Regions from separate parts of the Homo sapiens genome. Here region 2 is linked to region 1. The links come from fine-mapping of genetic effects on gene expression. Tissue or cell type: whole blood. Region 1 holds a variant in brackets; the other region holds the start of a gene. All regions are shown on one strand. Distances are between the middles of the regions.

Evidence for each region. PIP is the estimated chance that this variant, and not a neighbour inherited with it, causes the effect.
Region 2: it holds the start of UBE2E2, and the variant in region 1 is fine-mapped to the expression of UBE2E2 in whole blood (INTERVAL, PIP above 0.99).

Annotation. Positions count from the first base shown.
Region 1 is chr3:23,431,626-23,442,201 of GRCh38, reverse strand. All of the region lies in intron 3 of UBE2E2 (ubiquitin conjugating enzyme E2 E2), which reads right to left. Among named protein-coding and RNA genes, the nearest start is that of UBE2E2, 230 kb to the right of the region's middle. RefSeq lists a cis regulatory region at 642 and an enhancer at 558-727. The variant T/AT (reference allele first, on the strand shown) is at 5,638.
Region 2 is chr3:23,199,614-23,210,189 of GRCh38, reverse strand. UBE2E2 (ubiquitin conjugating enzyme E2 E2) reads right to left here and starts at 6,863. Exons shown (of 6, transcript NM_152653.4): 1 at 6,726-6,863; 2 at 1,315-1,498. The coding sequence starts at 1,490. It overlaps UBE2E2-DT (UBE2E2 divergent transcript), which reads left to right and starts at 7,197. Exons shown (of 2, transcript NR_136176.1): 1 at 7,197-7,326. RefSeq lists a silencer at 6,703-7,392 and enhancers at 7,743-7,802, 7,215-8,190.

The sequences.
Region 1 (10,576 bases):
TCACCCTGATTTCCTGTCTGTTTCAGTTAATATTCCTTATCCTATTGTTACTAATGTTTAATGAGGTCTTTATTAAAATATACATATGTTCTTTTACTCCCAGATTTTATTTTTGTAGCATGTATTACACAGGCCACATAAGTCCAAAGTTACAATCAACAATATAAAAGTCACAGAACTAAAATCTAAATTTCTAACTAACAATATGAACACTAGGGAACTTCAATTTAAATCACAAAGCAAGGCTTTGTAATAACATTCTTAAAGTACTTAAATAAATATGAAACGTCTTTGAATATAAGTGGTACACCAAAAGCAAATGTGTTTTAAACGACCCAAATGAAGAGTTTCATTTTCTGACACTGCTTTTGGTAATTAAAAAAAATGATATATTTAAAATAGTTAGCTCATAATATCACCTAAAGTGTTGTACAGTTAACAACTTCCTTTCAAAAATAATAGCATAAAGCAATACTGAATACGCTATAACTTAAAGATGAGACAGAATCAATGCTACCTGTCAGCAGTGCTAGAGGCCTGCCCCAACCACATGACTATTAGGAACAAGTCAGTGAGCTCCTCTAACAAAGTCTGTGCTTCAGAGATGGTGGCATCTCCTCCACACATTAAGTTTCCTTACCCAATTCTTTTTTTTTTTTTTTTGAGACGGAGTCTCGCTTTGTCGCCCAGGCTGGAGTGCAGTGGCGCGATCTCGGCTCACTGCAAGCTCTGCCTCCCGGGTTCACGCCATTCCCTGGCCTCAGCCTCCCGAGTAGCTGGGACTACAGGCGCCCGCCACCATGCCCAGCTAATTTTTTTTTTTTTTTTTTTTTGGATTTTTAGTAGAGACGTGGTTTCACTGTGTTAGCCAGGACGGTCTCGATCTCATGACGTCGTGATCTGCCCGCCTTGGCCTCCCAAAGTACTGGCTGGGATTACAGGCGTGAGCCACTGCGCCCGGCCTTCCTTCCCCAATTCTTTGATAGATGCTCACTTCACAGGTACAATTGTTGCCTGCCAACCTTGCAGGGTGGATATTAGTTTTCATCTGATGCTTCAGAATACCCAAGTGACACAACACCAGGTCAAATGATTTTAGTGGTTTGCAAGTCGGTGTAAAAACCCCAGCTCTTTTGTACTGGAGCTCAGTATCCAAACAGCCCATTCTCTCTTTAGAATTCTAACTAAAATGTCAGTGGCAAGGGATTTTTAAAATAGCCCCTAGGTGTTTCAAGTTTCCTGTGCTTGTTTCAGCAGACTACTGACCCTGCCTACTCACAATAAGCGAGTCTCTTAGGATTTAAATATACAGCTACATTGCCGTAACAAGAACCAGTTACAGGAAGAGCAGGAAAAAAAGTTGGGGGGACAAACTGGCAGGAAATGACTTCAGGACACTTTTTTTCTTTTTTTTTAAATCCAAGTCAAAGAATAACTCAGCTCTTTACAGTTATTTAAATCTGAAAACTATTTCCCTGAAAATGAAATTTCTAAGTAATATACAAATCAACTTAACTAGACTGAAACATTTAGGCTGATCTTACTTTATCCTTTTTCTCAGTATCTTACCTAACGGTTCTATATTTCAAAGCCTGACAGATTTGTTTGGCTGGCATGATCTGACCACTTCCTTTCTATCGAGAAATACAATTTTCTCTTTTGTTGCTGAAAGATTTCTGTTCACGCGTATGAACGTGGGTCCGTTTACAGATTTTGAAGTGTAAATGTTAACATGGAGATAATGCAGGTCAGTATTTTACATCTTATTAGATATCTATATAAAGAAGATAAGATAGCCGGGTACAATGGCCCATGCCTGTAATCTCAGCACTTTGGGAGGACGAGATGCAAGGATTGCTTGAGTCCAGGAGTTTGAGACCAGCCTGGGCAACATAGTGAGACCCCATTATTTTTCCTTTTTTTCTTTTGAGACAGAGTCTCACTCTGTCACTCAGGCTAGAGTGCAGTGGCGTGATCTTGGCTCACTGCAACCTCCGACCCCTGAGTTCAAGCGATTCTCCTGCGTCAGCCCTCCGAGTAGCTGGGATTACAGGCACCTGCCACTGCACCTGGCTAATTTTTGTATTTTTAGTAGAGATGGGGTTTCACCATCTTGGCCAGGCTGGTCTTGAACTCCTGACCTCGTTCGTGATCCACCCACCTCGGCCTCCCAAAGCACTGGGATTACAGGCGTGATACACAATGCCCAGCCTCTTTTTTTTTTTTAATATAAAAAATTTAAAAAGATAAGAATGTCTACAATGAATAAGTATAGCTTCTCTGGCTTCACTGATAGTATAATCTTGATGTCAGGTAGGTTTCTTGTTCCTCAAACTGTATAGGTTAAAACACAAAATGGGCTAATAATGGACAGCACTATGGTACTTTAGTTATACATCTGGATTGAGGAATGGAGTGAGAAATACAATGCGTTTTCGCTGAAAGTGTTTAAACTACTTAAATACATTAAAATAAAAATAAACACATTAAAATAAAAGGTTATCTATCTTTCCATTGTTATAAGATGTGGGTTCCAAAGCACTTGAGGGATGGGATGGAGACAGCTGCTCAAGGACAAGCTGGAGAAAGTTCATTATAAGAGTATGTATAATTCATTCCAGACCTCTCAACGTTCTCTCTCATAATCTCTTTGGGGTCCTAGAGACTTTGGGCAGCTAGCCATCCCCAGGGCTCACTTGCTTAAAATTCAAATCCCATTTCCCAGATCTCCCTTAATCCAAACACTTATCCATAAGAAGTTCTAAAACAATTCTAGGGTTAAGACATGGAGGAGGAGGGGTGCCTCTGAGTTTGACAGTATCTCTTAGCGCAGGTACTATAACACACACCCTTTATTCCTTTAGTCCTTGGATTCCTGGCATCTGCCAGTAACCCTATGTGATGGCCAGTCAGGAAGGAAAGCAGTCACACAGTTTCCTTTTGCAGTGCACAGGAAGAATACGCATGAAGGGAAAGTCTCAGGTTAGCCTTCCCCTGTACACATAACAGTATTTTTTAAAAATCACATGTTAAAAGCAAAACATCATGAATTCAATGTCAAGAAATTGAAACATTTCTTTGAATCAACTTATTTATAAGTATTATTGAGTTCCTGTTCCAAATTTTGCATTCTACTCTGATTTTCTTGTATATAAAAATGATCACTCAATTACTTAGGGGCAAATCTAACAATATTCATGCCTTCCTTAAAATAAAGACAACAATAGTTAACCATTATGTAGTGTGTTGAGTAGTATTCAAATATCCTTGCAAAGAAGCCACAAACCTTATCAGAATACTAATATGTTGTTATCAGAAAATTTGTAGTGATGGTGGTAACCTGACAATCATAAACCCACAGTAATTCTGATTCTTTTATGGTTTCAATATGAATACAGCTGAAACCAAATATTTTAATTTATGAACTATGTTAAGTTTCTCTTTTCCATTTATATGTGGGATGGACCACATGCAGCAATATCTAATTTAGTAAATATTTCAAGCATATATCAAACCATGATGCATAAAATATAATGAAAAGGAAAAATATTAATACTTTAATTATTACTCAAGAAAGAACACATGACTAAGCTGTCACCAACTGCCTATCATAATGCTATAAAACTTACTTAGGACCAACTAATAAAAGCTCAAAAACCGTACAACTACTGAAAATGTCTAGTATATAACTTGAGAACATCTGTCCCTTTTAATTCAAACCTTTTCAAATTTAAGTTCAAGGAACTTCTATCACTACAGAAAATACAGAAATGTATCATCTAATTTTGAGTACTATTTCTGCCAATCCTTTGCTCAAACCTTCCACAGGCTCCTATGGAATAAAGCTGATGTTCTGGTTCTGGTACCCTAAATCCTCCATAATTTGGACCCCCTCACTTCAGCCTTATTTCCTCTTGCTCCAGCATGAGGAAATCTTTTCTCTAGAGAACCTGAATTCCTGAACCTTCTCAACTCTGCACCTTTACTTTTGCTCTTTCTGAAGCTTGTCTGGAACACCTTTCTTGCTTTACTCACTGAAGTCCCACCTGAATCAAGTTAAAATGCTTTACAGAAACCTGTACTGGTTCATGTTTGTGATCCTACAATCTGAGCTTAGACACTGGCATGAAATGATGCTCTTCAAATCTGCTGAATTAATCTGACTCTAAAGCCAATTTAAGACCATACAATAGTCTGCCCCTCACTGTTCCAACTTGGTCATTTCCAGTAACTGATCTTTGTAGTCACTGTGCTCATACTGCATTTACTGCCCACACTGAGGGTGTTTAAAACTTGCTGATTTCATGGAATCTCTGTGTTTTTCTCATGTTAATCAAATAAGTGGCCACCTGTCCTGTGTGCGGCACACAATGCTGAGGATGCAGAGATGCAGGATGACCTTTTCTGTGAGAACATATACACAATCTACGATACAAGTATCACACAAAGAACCAAAAGGACGTAGAAATCCAAAGGAGGAGGGAGTGCCTGTCTGACGGAAACATGCCAGACACTATACAGAAGCAGTGAGGTTCGATTCTACTGTCACAAGGAAAGTGTTCATGGTGATTCAGGGCCTCCGGCATTCCTCTCCTTTCTGAGCTCCTATAGTACTTACGTTTTACACTACTTCTTTTACCCTTAATGATGAAGATGAAGGTCAGAAACTGATTGCATTTGCTGAGCAATCACTATATGCCAGAGATTCTTATAATTAGCACTTTACATGATATTAATGCATTTAACTGTCACAAAAACCTAATCTATTAAAATACTCCTGGATTTACAGATTAGCAAACTGTGGCACAGAGAAATTAAACATCTTGGAAAAATTACACAGGTATTAAGTGGGTGGCATGGGACCTACTATGCATGGAAAAGTCAAAAGGGCCAGTTTTAGGTGGCATGGTCAAGGAAGAACTATCCCTATAAATAGTAGTTGCAATGAGACCTGAAAAAAGAGAGTCAGACATGTAAGGATGAGTTTTTCAGGCCAAGTAAACTACAAGGAGAAAGGCCCTGGGATGAGAAAAACCTGGCGTGTGTGGGAAGTGGAAGGAAGGCCAACGTGGCCAGAGTCAAGTGAAAGGGAGAAAGAACAAGAGATGAGCCTCCAGAAGCAGGCAGGGGCCAGCTCACGTATGGCCTGTGGGCCTGGGTTAGGAGTCTGGGTTCTATGTGTACTGATTTACCTTTACACTACACAACTCTTATGTCTTGTTCTCCACAGTGAGAGTGTCAATGGCAGAAACCAGCTATTATTTTTTAAATGTCTTGTAGCACCCAGCTCATAGTATTATGCAAAATACTCTGTGAAACATTCCCTAACTGTGATAAAAATGAGGTGGGTGTAACTGCATGCAGGAGTGGCTGAAATGGTCTAATGTCGGAGATACAAATGGAGAGACAGAGAGGCATTCCAGACCTGTGGTATGCCAGTTTCATGGCTGCAGAGGGGGAACTTAAGACGTTCTAATAAAAATAAGATGGAACATGGAAAAATAAGATTTTGTTTTGGGGAGGGAGTATAGTTTTTGTTTTTGTTTTTTGGGACAGCATCTTGCCCTGTCACCAAGGTTGGAGTGTAGCGGCTCAATCGCAGCTCACTGCAGCTTTGAGAATAGGAAAAAAAAAAAA[T/AT]CTTCTGTAAATCAAGATATAATTAGAACTTATACTCAGATTTTCCTTTAAAGGAAAACAAATCTTCAAATGTCTTCTAAATGAGAGCGCTCCAGTTTTCTATGAGAATACAACAGATGCTACAGTGTACGAATTCTGAAGAACGCAGGACTAAGAAATGCCCAGTGAAAGCAAAGTACTCAATTACTAACGAAATGTTAACATGTCATTCTGGCAAGAAGAAAAATATCATGGAACAGCAGAATGAACCTGGGCACTGGAGTCATGAAAGTTCACAATCAGAACTCTAGTTTAGCCACTGTGGTATAACACCTAAAATTAAGGTTCAATATCATGTGCCGCTTTGACACCTGGTAAAATCGGGAAGGCCTTGAATGATCTAACCCAGGGATCCCCAAACCCTGGGCCACAGACTGCTAACAGTCTGTAGCCTGTTAGGAACTGGGCCGCACAGCAGGAGGTGAGCGGCTGGGGAGCAAGCATTGTTGCCTGAGTTCCACCTCTGTCAGATCAGCAGTGGCATTAGATCCTCATAGCAGTGGGGATCCTATTGTGAACTGTGCGTGCGAGGTATCTAGACTGTGCGCTCCTTATGAGAATCTAACTAACGCTTGATGATCTGAGGCAGAAGAGTTTCATCCCCAAACCAGCCTGCCCCGCCCCTGCCGTGGAATAACTGTCTTCCACAAAACCAGACCTTGGTGCCAAAAAGGTTGGGGACCACCGACGTAACCCATACGTTCCCCTCTCCACTCTGCTCTCATGAATAAAGGCCCCTAGCGAAACCATCCACCTTACCAAAGGGGCCAGATGCAGTTCTTCCTTATCCTTGAATAGTAGGTTTCAGTTTCTTGTCAGCTTGAGGAATTATTCAAACAAGCCAATCACATCCTTCCATGGGAACCAGGGGATACCCCCACCCTCTTGATACTACAAAGCCTGCCTCCCATAGCTCCTAGTTGTTTACTCTGTTCCCAAGTGCAACTCCACGTGACCCCACTTGAGGCACAGGGTCCTCTTTGCCTTAGCTGTGAACATAGGTAACTAACTGCTGCTGAGCCCAACTGACGTGTTCAGCCATCCTCATAACCCTATGGCAGGAATCCTTCCCTTGTCAAAGGGGTGAGGAGGAAGTGACCAAAACCACCACTTACTGGCTGTGTGAATCAGACCTCACACCAAGTAACTTAACTTTTATCTCCAAGCTTTTTATTCTGTAAACTAGGATTAAGAATATTTACTCTGCAGGTTACGGTTAAGTATTATCTCTAGCAGTTATTATTGTGTGTTGTATCTAGCAGTGCAGTTTTAGACTCATGACTGATTCTACTAATAAAATCCTTATCCCATCACCTGTCCCTATCACCATAACTATTACTATTGATTTCAAGTGTGTAAGTTCAAATTATAGAGTTTGAAACAATAGGTGGGGACATAAATAACAGGCCAGATTTTATTTAAGAAGCAATCTGGCTTATTTACTAGACATCACTTAATTTCAGCCACTAAGAAAACAACTATAAGGAGAATTAACAAGAGTTTTGGGAAAATAAGTAGACATGAAACCAAGACTGCTTTCCAGATACTAAATACTTGGTTGAACTGTAATTTGATTCTGTGAATCTGGATATGCAAATGATGCAGCGATTTATGGCAATAAAGGTCTTTTTAATGAGCTAACATTCTGTGCGCAAATGCTTTATTTTTAAGCAAATGGAAAAAAATCACTTGCTTCAGATAAGAGACAAGGGGAAAATTGGAGCTAATAAAGCATTACACTGAGAGAATTTCCTTTTCTTCAGTTTTTCCTTCTCACATCTTAATTGTGCTACTTATTAAACACACCCCCAATCCAACTGTTTCCTGAACTCAGTAGTACATCTTTATGCCTTTCAATTTTTATGCAATTACCTAATTTATACAAGTTTGCATATTTGTACATTTACAGAGAGGAAAATTATAAAATATATAGTCTAATATACACATAATAAAATGAAAATTTATAACTATTTAAATAATGGAGGGAAGAAGACTTACACAATATAGTGAGAACTCCTTTGGACACACATAGGGTGATCATTTTGGGAGTATCTGTTTCGTACCAAGAATTTTTTGCCTTTAAATTTTGTCTAGTTAAGTAGAGCTAATGCACAATTGTGTCATTTGGGGGATGCAAACTTTATTCTCTTCAGAATTCTAGTTTGATACTGAAATATTACTGTCATAAAATTAGAGATAAATCACAATCCAGGTTATGTTAGTAAGCAATTGGATGTTACATTGAGATCTTTTTTTTGCTCTTTGGCTACCACATTCAATAAGTATTTAAGCACTAGTTTAAAGTGGATGATTGTTAATGTACAACAAAATTGCACAGTAATAAAGCCTGTAATAAAAATAAGCGGAACACCCACAGCTCATACAGTGTAGTTAAGTGTATTAGCTGGTCTCAAAAGCATTAACTTTTACTCAAATAGCAGCAGTATTCTGCACAACCTATTAGCTTCAGACAGTGCATATTAGCTGCAGACTACCAGAAATTTTTATATTTGTATGTTCAAATAAAATGGGTTTCACTATATTATAAATAGTTCCATATAATATTGAGGATTTATTTTAAATGTAAATGAGAAAAAAGGGGAATCTTTTTTCCCTTACAAACGAGGTAACTTAAAAATTTACCATTCTTAGTCTACATGTATTCCCGTATTTTACATCTTGTGAAAAAGCAAGACATGATATACTTCTATTAGTTAGCTTTTCTTGGAAGTTGTAAATTTATAAAAAGAGATCACTGATGGGCCAGCCCTTCATTTACTCTCATTCTGTTAAATTTGTCTTTCTCTTAGGCCATAGCTTGGGAATGTTAAATCCAAAATTTGGCTCAGTGTTTTTAAAACTTAAAAAAAAAAAGTCATAAAGACAAGCTGTTTTCTTGATCCTTTAATGCATTTTCAACGTTTAAATATCACATATTCTGGTTAATCATAGCCAATAAGATATCATCAGATCATATAAATCTGCGTCAATGTACTTAGTTTCAAAAAATTAAAAACAACCAATTCATAGTGCCAACCATGCTCAAAAATCATTAACATTCACTGTTGACATCAGTCCAAAGCATTCACCTGCATTAAAACACTTCATTAAAACACTCAAGAACTCTATCACTATTTATCTAGAAGCACGCATAAAACAAAATTCAGTTTTACATACAATAGGATTTAATCAGCTGTTTTTCAGCTTTTTTTTAATGGAGTCAACTTATAATTTTTTATTATTATGAAGTTATTCTAATTCTTTATAGAGGAGCACAATAATGATATAGCAAAATTCACTTGGGAGAAAAGATATGAGTATAAGATTTTGGTCCACCACAGTATCCTAGGTGCCTGAAACAGTGCCTGGCATACAGAAACTGACATTCAATAATTATTTTCTGTATGAATAAACAACTGGGTACACTTTTCCACCAAAAAGTAATATTTATTTTTTCCTTCCATTCACATCTTATCACAGGAATAAAGTATTAAAGGCATCATAAGTTAAAAGTTCTGTTAATGGCATCATAAGCTGAAAGTTTAGTGTTTAATATATTCAAGTTGCATCATAATCAAGAATCTTTCTATCATGATATCGAAGTGTCTATTCTTATAGAACCACACATAAATTATATTAATATTAACATCTATTATATCTGTTAATATGTTAATAGTTTATTATTAAATTATTAATGTCATTATCAAAGGCAAGAAAAAAGTAACAGAAAAGAAGTCTCTGTGTGACTGTTATCTGGAAATGAATCTATAATGTAAATACATCTCTATATGGCTGGGAAAGTTCTTTCAAAAGTTCAATTAAATAAATTTTAATTGAACATGAAATGCCCAAAATTGAGAAAACCACTACCAAATTTGGACAGAGTAATAGTAAGCATCCTTCTCAACTAATGAACTTGAGACGAGAAAGTAAGGAGAAAAAGAACATGGTAGAGCTGTGGAGAGACTGACAGCAGGAATTTATCAGTAAGAAGGTATAACTGATAATGTTGATATATGCACTTACATAAAAAGCCTTCTGAATATTAAAAATATTAAAAATCATATCACTGATGTAAAAAATTTGTTTAAAGTCCTATAGTAATCATTTCTAGAAATTTGCTTTTAAATGCTGATGCTATTTGTTATGATTTTTGGTTATTCCTTTTGTTTCACTTTTTGCCAATTATGAACGAAGAATCCTCATACAAATAATAATTGCACTTATGATACCTTTCAGCTCACAATCTTAATGCATTAACCAATTAATTAAGAAGGAAATATTTATCCCAAATTAGGGTAATCAGAATTAGGAATGGCAAGAACTCTGTTGCTTCTTTTCTCTACACATACCATTTTAGAATTTGACTGCTTGTGATATAATTACTGTATCTGACAAAACATAGAAAGAGAAATTAATGAAAAACTGATTTCTGGATATAGCTGCAGAACATTTATCCAAATTTTCTGTACTGAAAGCTGTACATTACAGTGTGATGACTAGTAGCGTTTGCCTACATGCTTTACACTTAAATCATTAGATATAAACGTGGTTTCATATGACCTGTCTGTGAGAGCTTATTTAGTAGTCTTAGATCATCATCTTCTAATGACTACTTATCAGCTTGTACTACAGTATGTGGGCCAAGTTGGCCCATTCTTACTGAAAATATTTTGAATTAATTTTAACCCCTAAATATTAAGGCCCTATTTTCACAAAGTATCACATAACTACATTTGAACAGGAAGATATTTCTACGTATAGTGGTTAATGCAAACTAATATATAGTGGTTTTCAGAGGCTAAAAAAAAATCTGTTTATACTATTTTATTTTTACTGCAAAGTTCTATTTTGTACTTTTAAAGAGGAGATCTGAAGATGTCAGAAGTGATGGTAAATC
Region 2 (10,576 bases), 230 kb after region 1:
TCCTTCCCACCTACATCGACTTCCTTCTTTCACCTAAATGTCATATTTTCTCTATTCCCCACCTTTCTCATCCATCCTAACCCCACCCCCCATTTTCCAGGTCACCTCTAAGCAGGTCATTTGTGTTGTGGTCTGGCAAACAGAAGGGTCAGCCAGCTGAGTCCCCGGTAATTGTGTTGTGATGGCAAAACAAACTGAACCCTCTTCCCCACCCTAGCATGGTCTAGTATACAGGTCTCAAAGTTTAAAGTTCAGGGCTCTCTGACTTTCAAACAGCTCCTTCAACAGAGATCAGCAATACACCCCCACGAAAGGGAAACTGAATACTCTAGTACCTTGGAATAACCACTCACCATCCCTCCAACATCTCTCACCAAGGGTCCTGAGAAGGTTCTTTCCAACCCTGTAGACTGACTAAGCCAAAGGAAAACAAGGTCTACTAGAACAAAATAATGGTTTTTTATCTTTGAGAAAGGAGTTCCCCTTAACCCACACCATAAAATAACATATAAAGCTGTAATACAACATTCAGGCATTCCACTATGCCTACAAGTTACAGATCGCTTTTATGTATACTTCCGACTTGGTCAATGTAAAATATATGAAAACAAAGCAAGAACATAAAATCACAGGATCAGGAAAGACACTACATTTAATTTATCTTTCAAATTATTTTCCAAGAGATATTCTATAATGTAACAATATCAAACAGATTCCCTTTAAGTCCAGTGACATGCCAATCATTTTAAGAGATTGAGTACCAACAGAAAATCATTCAAATACCTACTTTCCAGATCCATCTATTCTCTAGAGAAAGAGAAAATCCGTATCAAGATGGATCCACTGACTAATGTAATGAAACCAAGATGCACCTGTTGCTAATGTCAGCATTTCTGACTTTACCAACTGGGAGTAGTGGAAAATAAACTGTCACTCACTCAGTAACTACTTCAAAGATTCCTAATCTCTATTCTGTGTTACTGAACAGAAAAAAAATATTTATGGTCAAGTAACCATAAATGAAACTACTGCAATTTTACATACACACCCTGTATATGTTTCCCTGATAATACATAAACACACAAACACACTATGGAAATGTATGTTATGAATTTGCCTTGCCATTTAACTGACTTTAAATACTGAAGTTCCCTATGGTTAAAACCATGTAAACGAGATCATCTTGAAGGGAAAAGAAAAATCCATGAAGTTCACGGCCGACATCCCAGAAAAAATGATTAAATGCAAGAGAAAAATAGAACTTAAGATGATAAATTGATACCAACAATAAAAAGGTTATAATAACTGAAGTACCTTTTAGCACTAGTTGACAATTTAGCAGCGGTTTTGCTGGATATTTTTCCCTCCTTTTTCTTGGGCTGAACTTGTTCTCTTTCTGGTTCTTGCTGAACACTTTCACGTTGATCTCCATCGGAACTTCCTCCACTAGTGCTTGGACTGTCATCAACTCTTTGTGCCTCAGTGGACATTTTAGATCCTGGATTAAAGAATCAAAAATCATTTATTTAGCTGTACTACAGTAAGCTACCTCCAGAACACAGAGAATGAGCCTCAAAGTAAAACAAGTAAATCTCAATATAAAATGGATTAAATTGGTCATTTACAAAACAATGCAGCTTTGGGAGTTGCTAAAACTTTTCCTTCATCCATTCAAAATGTATTCTAAAATGAAAACATACAAAATTTATACATGAAATGTTCATAGCAACATTATTCATAATAATCAAAACTGGAAACAACTCAAATATCCACTAACAAATGAATGGATGAACAAAATATAGTAGTATATTCACATAATGTACTGTTAGCCATAAAAAAGAATGAAGTACTGTGTCTACATGCTACAAAATGGATGAACCTTGAAACATTCTGGTAAGTGAAAGAAGCCAGCCACAAAGGACCACAAACTGTTTGACTATTTATATGAAATGTCCTGAACAGGCAAATCCATAAACATAAAATTCAGTAGTGAACCTCACGCCTGTAATCCCCAATGTTTTGGGAAGCTCAGGGAGCACCAGCCTGGGCAACGTAGTGGGACTCGATCTCTACAAAAAATAAAAATATGATTGATACCACTGCATTCCAGCCTGAGTGACAGAGCAAGACCCTGTCTCAAAAAAAAAATTAATAAAAAAATAAAATGGGTAAGTGGTTGCCAGGGAGTGAGGGGAGAGTAGTGAAGAGTGACGGCTAATGGGTATGATGCTTCCCTGTGCGGTGATAAAAATGTTCTTAAATTAGATAATTATAATCTTGCACAATTCTAATAATAAATATTCTAAGAACTACAGAGTTGTACATTTTTAAAGGGTAAATTTTATAGTATGTGAATTATATATCAATAATGCTGTTACAGAAAATAAGACAAAAATGATTAAGGGTCTACTCTCTACCAGGCGCTGTGCTAAGCCCTTTGGTCCCACAACTGTGAAAAACCTCGACTAGCCAACTTGCTAAGTACAAAAACGAAGGTTAGTACAAATACTTGTGGGAACACAAAAATGGGACGACACTTTCAAATCCCTATTCAATCAATACATCCTCAGGGCTGGGCTAAGGTTAAAATTCTCCAAACTAGTAAGTGGTTTTAAGTAACCTTTGTGATAACAGAAGAACACAGAGGCCTGCATGACTGCATGATTCTAAATAAAAATTGAACCATATGACAGCATTCAGCTATATACTAAAGCAACCATATTTCACAAGAGATGAAGACACTGAAGATTTTTTTTTTTTTCCCCACATTCTGGCTAAAATATCCCTCAAGGCTTTCAAATTCCCTTTGCTCTGAGTTCAGGCCCCCCAAGCAGTTCTGATTACCAACTCAATTTCCTCAATACCTTGATATTTAGGTAGCTGTTATAATCTAGACAGCAGACACAAACAATTCCAGTAAGTGAAAAGGAGTATCTCTCCTCAACTGTCATTCTATCATAATCAATTTCTGAGTTTGATGACTATGAATACATCCCTTATGAGCTGACTAGCTTAAAGTGTTCTGACAAATCCAGAACTGAACCAACAAAACTCATGCCCAGACTCTAAAAGGCCTTGTGCTCCCCATGGTTTTGTCACCTAATAATCACTTTCAGCACTGTATAGCTATCTTCTCAGACACCTTTTTAAAAACAAAATACCTATACTTAATAAGTACCATTAACAGCAAAAAATATATCTTTAAAAATTATAGGTACACTGAACAAATTCCTTTTGAAATGGATCCTTTTGATTACTCTTAATCAAATTACAACTTGAAATAAAACTGTTTCTGATATGATCAAGAATAAGAACAGGTAAAGATACCTCAAATAAAGCAAAATTTTTTAATTACTATAACTTAGTCCAAATGGATAGCTATTTGACACTGATGAAAATTCATCATCACTAAAGATTTAACTTGTAGCTTGCTCTAAGCCAAAGCAATGTTGTAACACCGATCTTTAATGGACTGAAATTTTTGTAAGACAAACCAAAAAGCACTGCAAAAGAATGGAAGCATCAGGAAGCACAGAGCCACAAAGAGTCAACAGAAAATAGTGAATCCTTTCACTGACACACCACACACACCACCACCAGCACCCCTTCAACCCCAACAGCTCCCCATGCCAAACAGAAACAGATCTGCCCCAACAGCTCTGAAACATACTAACGGAAAAGCTGACTACTTTTCTACCTATTCTGTAAATGAAGAGCACCAGTCTCCACAGCTGTGACATCTTTTATGAGCACTAAAGTCACTTAATAGAACACTGAAATTTTATATCAGTATGTTTCACATCTAGCTCTAAAAGTCGTAACATATTTCTTGCTTTTTTTCATTTTTATTTCACTCTAAATTCTCATTCTTGGATTTAATATTTTTTTTCACCTTCTTTCAGTTAAAATATATCAGAAGTTTAAAATCTTGTAAGTATGTACATAATGGCATATCAGATAGGGCGGCATGCATGAGAGTGAAAAAGAGAACAATCCTCAGGGAAAGGTGCTCAGATATAGCAAAATGCTGCCAGCAATACCTTAAGAAATGTGAAATGAGTGAGAAATCATTTTATACATTTTAAAACAGGAGCAATCCATTCCATGACAAATATATGGGTACCTCAATGAAATAATATTCTCTATACTGAGGATGCAGCTTCAGCGTAATAAACTATGATTTAATAAACTATGCTGAGAGTTTCAGTTGTGTATAACATTAGTTATAAAGCCACACATTCTTCTCAATATTCTTATTTATGTGCATTTACATACTATCGAATGCCATAGTTATATAATTACTTAAAAAGATTACTCAATGATGTGATCTGAGCCATAATCTGAAACTCAAATTTCTACTGCCGAATATTAGAGGAAGATTAAAATAAAAATTAGTCTCACCAGAGAACTAATAAAAATACTATTAGAAATTCCCCAACAGAGGTGTAATTTCTGGTTTCACATTAAGGAAAAGAATTATTCCCACTTTTGAGTTAAGACATATTTCATCCAAATGTTAACCTACAAATGATAAGTCCATCTGAGGCCATTGATAACCACTATAGGAACTTTTAGAAATAAAGTTTTCACATCTCTTTTTCAAATATCAATAATAAAAGGAATTTCTCCTGGGTTTGTTTTTTGAATGCTTGATTACAGAAAAAGTATAGAAAAAAATTATTGTACCACTCAGGTGCAACGAATTTTTATGAAGAAAAAGTAGTCTATGAATCAATTTAATTAGTCGTAAGTGTAAACTTGATGTCTTGTCTCTCTGAAGTACAAATGAATAAAAATTCCTGAATTAAAATCCTTTAAACATTATCTTCTAAATTAGCATTTTAAAATTAATTCCTAAATAGCTAATCTGATCCGATTATCTCATCTACAGGGAAGATAAACTTAAATCCCAGGGTTATAAACAAACAGCTACTCTCCAATGATACTTTCAAAGATATTGAGAGAGATAAATACGCTTACTTCATAACTCAAAGTAAAATTTAATTTTTAACCATAAAATAAGTAGTCCTTCCTAAAACTATATTAAGAGGCTTACATATTGTTACTTCTTCAACACAAACTGTCTAAGCTTGTATTAGCTATGTACCCTATGTTGTAATTACAGTCCTGGAAATTAGCAACATACAGTGAATGAAACTCACATGTTCCATAAAAATGAAATGATTTGGCTTGAAATATTACTGACTACATAAAGGCAACTATAGTCATTCCATAAATCCAGCCTACTACCCAGGTAAGCCTTATAACAGTATCTACTAGTATAAAACTGCAAAACCAAGTGTTCATTTAAGCTTTTATAACAGGAAAGCGTTTAATTCTGTCATATATGTCTTGCTGTCTTCCTACTCATGTTTCTAAACTTTTCTAAAATGTAAAATAAATATATAGTATATGCACACAGCAATATCCAGCTTTAAATTTAACTGCAAAGACATTTATGCAGAAAATAACAGTGGAACACCTGATTTGGGGGTAAAAGGTGCTGCAGGGGAAAGAGAATGGGGTATGGCATTATATGAAAACACTCTATTTCAGCGTCAGCCCACATACAGAATTCCAAAGAGCCAAGGAGCATCCAAATTGCCGTAGTAAAGGCAAATATTTAGATTCACAAAGTCCAGACTGAATTATCACATATCTAGAAACATACTTTTTAAAGAAATCAGGGATTAAAAACTAAGAAGAGCGTAAAATCCTTTAGAACCGCGAGATACTTTGAGGGTAAACCCTAGCACTTCCTTTCGTACTTTTAAATAAAAATATTTTAGTAGACTCTCAAGAATACACAATACAAAACGATGAATCTTGAAAACATGCAAATGGGTCTAACAGCCACCGAGCACAGGATGATGTCTTTCTAAAGCAGCCTTAATTTCCTTAAGGGAAGATGGATTGGACATTTCTGGTTGGTCGTGGGGGAAAAAAGCCACAAGAAGCCACGCTTTATCTTCATTAGAAATGGTAAAGGGCAAAAAGATCAAAACATTATGAGAGAGATCGGAGAAAAGAGGGGGAGAAGTGGGGTGGGCGGGAAGGGGGAGAGGACAGAGGGAATCCAGTTTCAAACCAGGCCAGTGGGGGCTGCAGAGAAGAGACCAGAGAAAAATGGGCTTCGGTTCCAAACTGTGACAAGCGCCAGGCATCACAAAAGACCAATACAACACACACCCCTCACCAGGACACACACAAATATACCCCACAAGGTCTTCTCCGGGCGGGCCACCGGGGTGCGGCGGCGAAGGAGCCAAACCCGGCACTCGCCAGGAGACACACCATGTGCAGCAATTATGCAATTAGGGAAAATAGCAAAAGATCAAGCCGGGCACTTTCCACCGTGACATTTATCCTGTACTTTTGAAAAGACTTAGTTCCAGGATGCGGCTAGGAGAAGGAAAGCGCTGGGAGGGTTGAGAAGGATGGGGAACTGAGAACGGAAGGGGGTAGAAGGAGGACAGGGAGAGAAGAGGCAGAAGGGGGGGATGGGAAGAAGGGGGAGGGGTAGAAAGGGCGAGAAACGGGGGCAGGAGGCTCGCGGGAGGGGGCGTAGGGAACCGGGCACGGGGAGCGAGGAAGGAGGGAACTAGGGCACGAGCGGTGTAAGCAGAGACCTGCGACGCGGAGGGGAGGTCGGGGGAGTGAGGAGGACGTCAGCGAGAGGGAGGACGCCCGAGGAGGGGAGGCACCGGCGCGGCCCGAGCGAATACCTGAGGGGGGGGTGTCCGTGCAGGTCGCAGGCTCGAGCCGAAGCCCTGGGAGAGAGCTGCCCAGGCGCGAGGGGGAGGGAGACTGGGGAGGCCCCAGGGACGGGATGTCCCCTGCGGACCGTCTAGTCACCGAAAGCCGGACCCACGCACCACGCACCCGACCACGCCTGTCCCCGCCGCGCTCGCGCCCGCCCGGACTCACCCTCAGCGCCGCCGCTGCCGCCGCCCCCGGCCGTTCCAGCTCCGGCTCCTGAGGCTGCTGCCCGCGGCTGTCGCTGTGGCTGCCCCTGAGTCCTGGAAAGTGAAGCCACCACCTCCGGGAGCCGCCGCCGCCCGGCCGTCCGCGCGCGCACCCGCGAGTGCGCGTGCCTGCGCGCCCGCCCGGGAGAGACCGCGAGAGCGCGAGCCCCACGTCGGCCATGCGGCGCCGCGCGCCTCCCTCCTCCCCCCGCCCCTCCTCCTCCGGCGCGCGGCCGCGAGGGGGCGGGGGCGGGAGCGCGCCCGGGCGGGCTGCCCCGCCGGTCGGGAGAGGGGGTGGGGAGGCGGCGAGGAAAAGTAAAGTGACAGCTGGGTCCCGCGCGCAGACTGGGCTCTGACGGGGGTGAGCGAGGGGCGTCCCACGGGGAAGGAACGACAAGGACGGGGAGAAGTGGGGGAAACCGAGGCTGACGGGGTGGCTTGAGGGGAGGGGACGCGAGGACCTTGCCGGGCACGCGCATTAAAGGGAAACGCCGGCTGGGGGTTAGGGGTTACCCCAAGACGGTGCAGGCAGTGGGACGAGGAGGCCTTTTACCCCCATCCACCGCAGCCCTTGACTTCACGCTCGCCTCGAAGCTTTCGCAAAGTAGATACGGGGACTGACCCTGTTGACACACTAACCCAAACTCGCAGACGCGTGGGGCTCGCATGTACCCAAGACAGGAAAACTTCACGTTGGCCTGGAAACTTCTTCCAGGCTAAGCCTGAGTCTTCACCAGACACTGCAGCACGAAGGCCCTTCTGCCTTTTGGCTCGCCCTGGCCCAGAATGCGCACCAGCCGGTAGAGAGGAGCTTCGGGCCGTTTAGCCCTGGGGTATTGAAGAGAGGGGTGGGGGTACAGGGTGCACCACTGTCAGAGTGAGTGGGAAGCTGCCTTCATGCCCAGTTGAAGGATATGGGAACAGTAGCAGTGCTGTAGGTGGCATGAGGGAACATTAGGTTCCGTTGTACTCCTCATCCCAAATAACCGTTTAAAAAAAAAAAAAAAACGTACCTGCTTTGCGAACTTAGCTTCCACGAAATTTCTCCCACTCCAACCTCCAGCCTCACTTACCAACGGAATGCTGGGTCGTTGGCAACGGGGTGTCCAGGGATGCAGCAAAATTAACTTCTATCTTTGTGGAGGAAAGGATTGGAAGATCTTTCACTGCTTAATTGCTGAAATTATGGTTGCTACAGTACTTCATTTGACTGTAGATGTTTTAACTGCTATTTACTAAGTTCAAAATGGGTTTAATACAAATCAGTTACCCTTTTCATTTATTCAAGGAATATTTATTGATACCAGGCACTGTCTAGGTGGTAGATATATGACATTGAATAAAAGAAAAAAATCCTTGTCCTCAGAACTTCCCTATGTCTGAACCTTCTCTGTTGTACACTCAGCATCACATTCGTCAGCAAATTCTGTTGACTCTGTTTTCACAAATATATGGTGAAAATGTCCACTCCGTCTCACTCCCCTCCCCACTGCTAATGTCCTGGTCTAAGGCATCATCTCTCAATAATTATCTCCTACCTGATCTTTCTACCTCCCACTCTCCGCCTCCTCCCTCCCCAACACCTACACACAGCCGACTGTCCTTTAAAACAAAGATTAGATTATGTCTCTCTTCTTCTCAAAAATTCCAGTGGCTTCCCATCATAGAGCAACAGCCAAAGTGCAAAATATGGATACATGGCCTGCATGATGTGCCCACCATTCCCAGCCAGGATTCCCCTGACCTCAAGCTGTACGATTTCACTCCATCCTCGTCTCCTTCCAGCCACACCGGCCTTGCAGTTATGGACACACCAAGCATTCCTCAGCCTCAAGACCTGTGTACTTACTATTTCCTATCTCTAGAACATTCTTTCCTCCCACTCCTCCCCCAGAACTTCCTATCCACATCCTCTGCTTTTTCTCCATGATCACCACCTGACATAATACATTTTTTTACTTATTTATTAGTTTCCCCCTTCTGCTTTCTTTTTCCTCCCTCTCCCAGCCCTCCCACGTAAAAGCACCTTGAGAAAAAGGATTTCGTCGTCTGGGGTTCAGTGCTGTATATATTCAATAGATAATGACCGAGTGAAAGAAATTGGTCTCTTTCAGTTGATGACACAATAGGTATTGTTTCTAATTTCTTCAATAATTAGTACTTACCGTGTTCTTAATTTGTGCTAGGCAGCATGCTAAGCACTTTAGTTATACTAGGTCACAACCACCACACAGGTTGGTTTTATCCAATCAGCCCCACTGTACAGATGAGAATACTGAGGTACGGAGGGATTAAGTCACTCACCTACAGTCACATAGCTAGTGAGGAGCAGAGCTGGGACTCGAAATCAGCAGTTTGGCTCTGGAGTCTGTGAACTTAAGGACACTTTACCATGAGTCTGGTGTTACAGACATAAATATTTATTTGATTTTCTCTATTTCTCTCTTCTGCGGTGCAAACTTGGTCTCCAAGACAAATAGCTCATCTTCCTTATATTTTCTGCTCTGGTCCATCAGTCTGTCGTCATGAACTCACTCCTTTCTTACATTTCTTATTTCTGATCATTAATTTAGAGCCTACGTTTTTTCCCCCTGCAACTGGCAAATTGGAATGTTTTTTGAAGGGTCCTTCTTAAAACGTTGTTACTGCCAACTTCGTGAGTAAGTAGAGCCACAGTTAGTTTTCCAGTTTGACTGGATGGGTGATAGAAAAGACCTCTCTCAGGGGAACTGGGCTGAATTTGAGCAGAAGCATTATACTGGTAGAGCCCTGCTACTTATTTAGGCAACTTCTGTTCTTGTTAGGCACCCAATTATCAGGGGTTATTACATATTTATATTATACCCTTTGAAAGAAACATCATATTAGCTCAGGTTTTCCAAAGAATGGGATAGAAAACAATGATCTGTTGCATACTGTCTGGCTTGAAGGAGGCTGTAGTCACCCCGAATGTTTTGGATACTTAAGGGCAACAGTGGTGTAGGAAAATTGAAACTCCAATAGAACTGCAACCCCATTACCTACCTAGTTCAGTACCAACGCAAAGGTACGACCAGGTGCTTTAAAAAAATGTTTGTTTCATAAATAAATAAATGAAATTCTAGCAGGGAATAGAAGTGTACTGAGGACAAATTCCCCTGACTTCCCCATTTGTTCAGGAACTGCTACCTGGACCACTATGTATGATCGTGTATTTTGTACACTGCAAAGTATCAGGGGGTGCCATTCATGTAAATTAAGATGCAAACATAGAAGTGTGGCTGCTCCTCTCACCCCTAGACGTTGCCTGAGTATGGTAATCAGTCTCTAAGATGTCCCACTGATCCCTGCCTCTTGGTATTCACACCCTTGTGTAATCCCCTCCTACGTCATGCTAGGGTTGGTGTAATGCTGTGAGAAAGGAGGGTATGTCACTTCCAAGATTAGTTTAGGGCTTCCATCTTGGTTGCGCACACACTGATGCTCTCTCTCTCTCTTTGCTGTCACTGACTCTGGGGAAAGCTAGCTGCCATATTGTGAGCAGCCCTGTGGAGAGGCCCATGTGACTAAAAAATAAGACCCGCTAACATCCACATGTGTAAGCTTTAAAGCAGATCCTTCAGCCTTAGCTA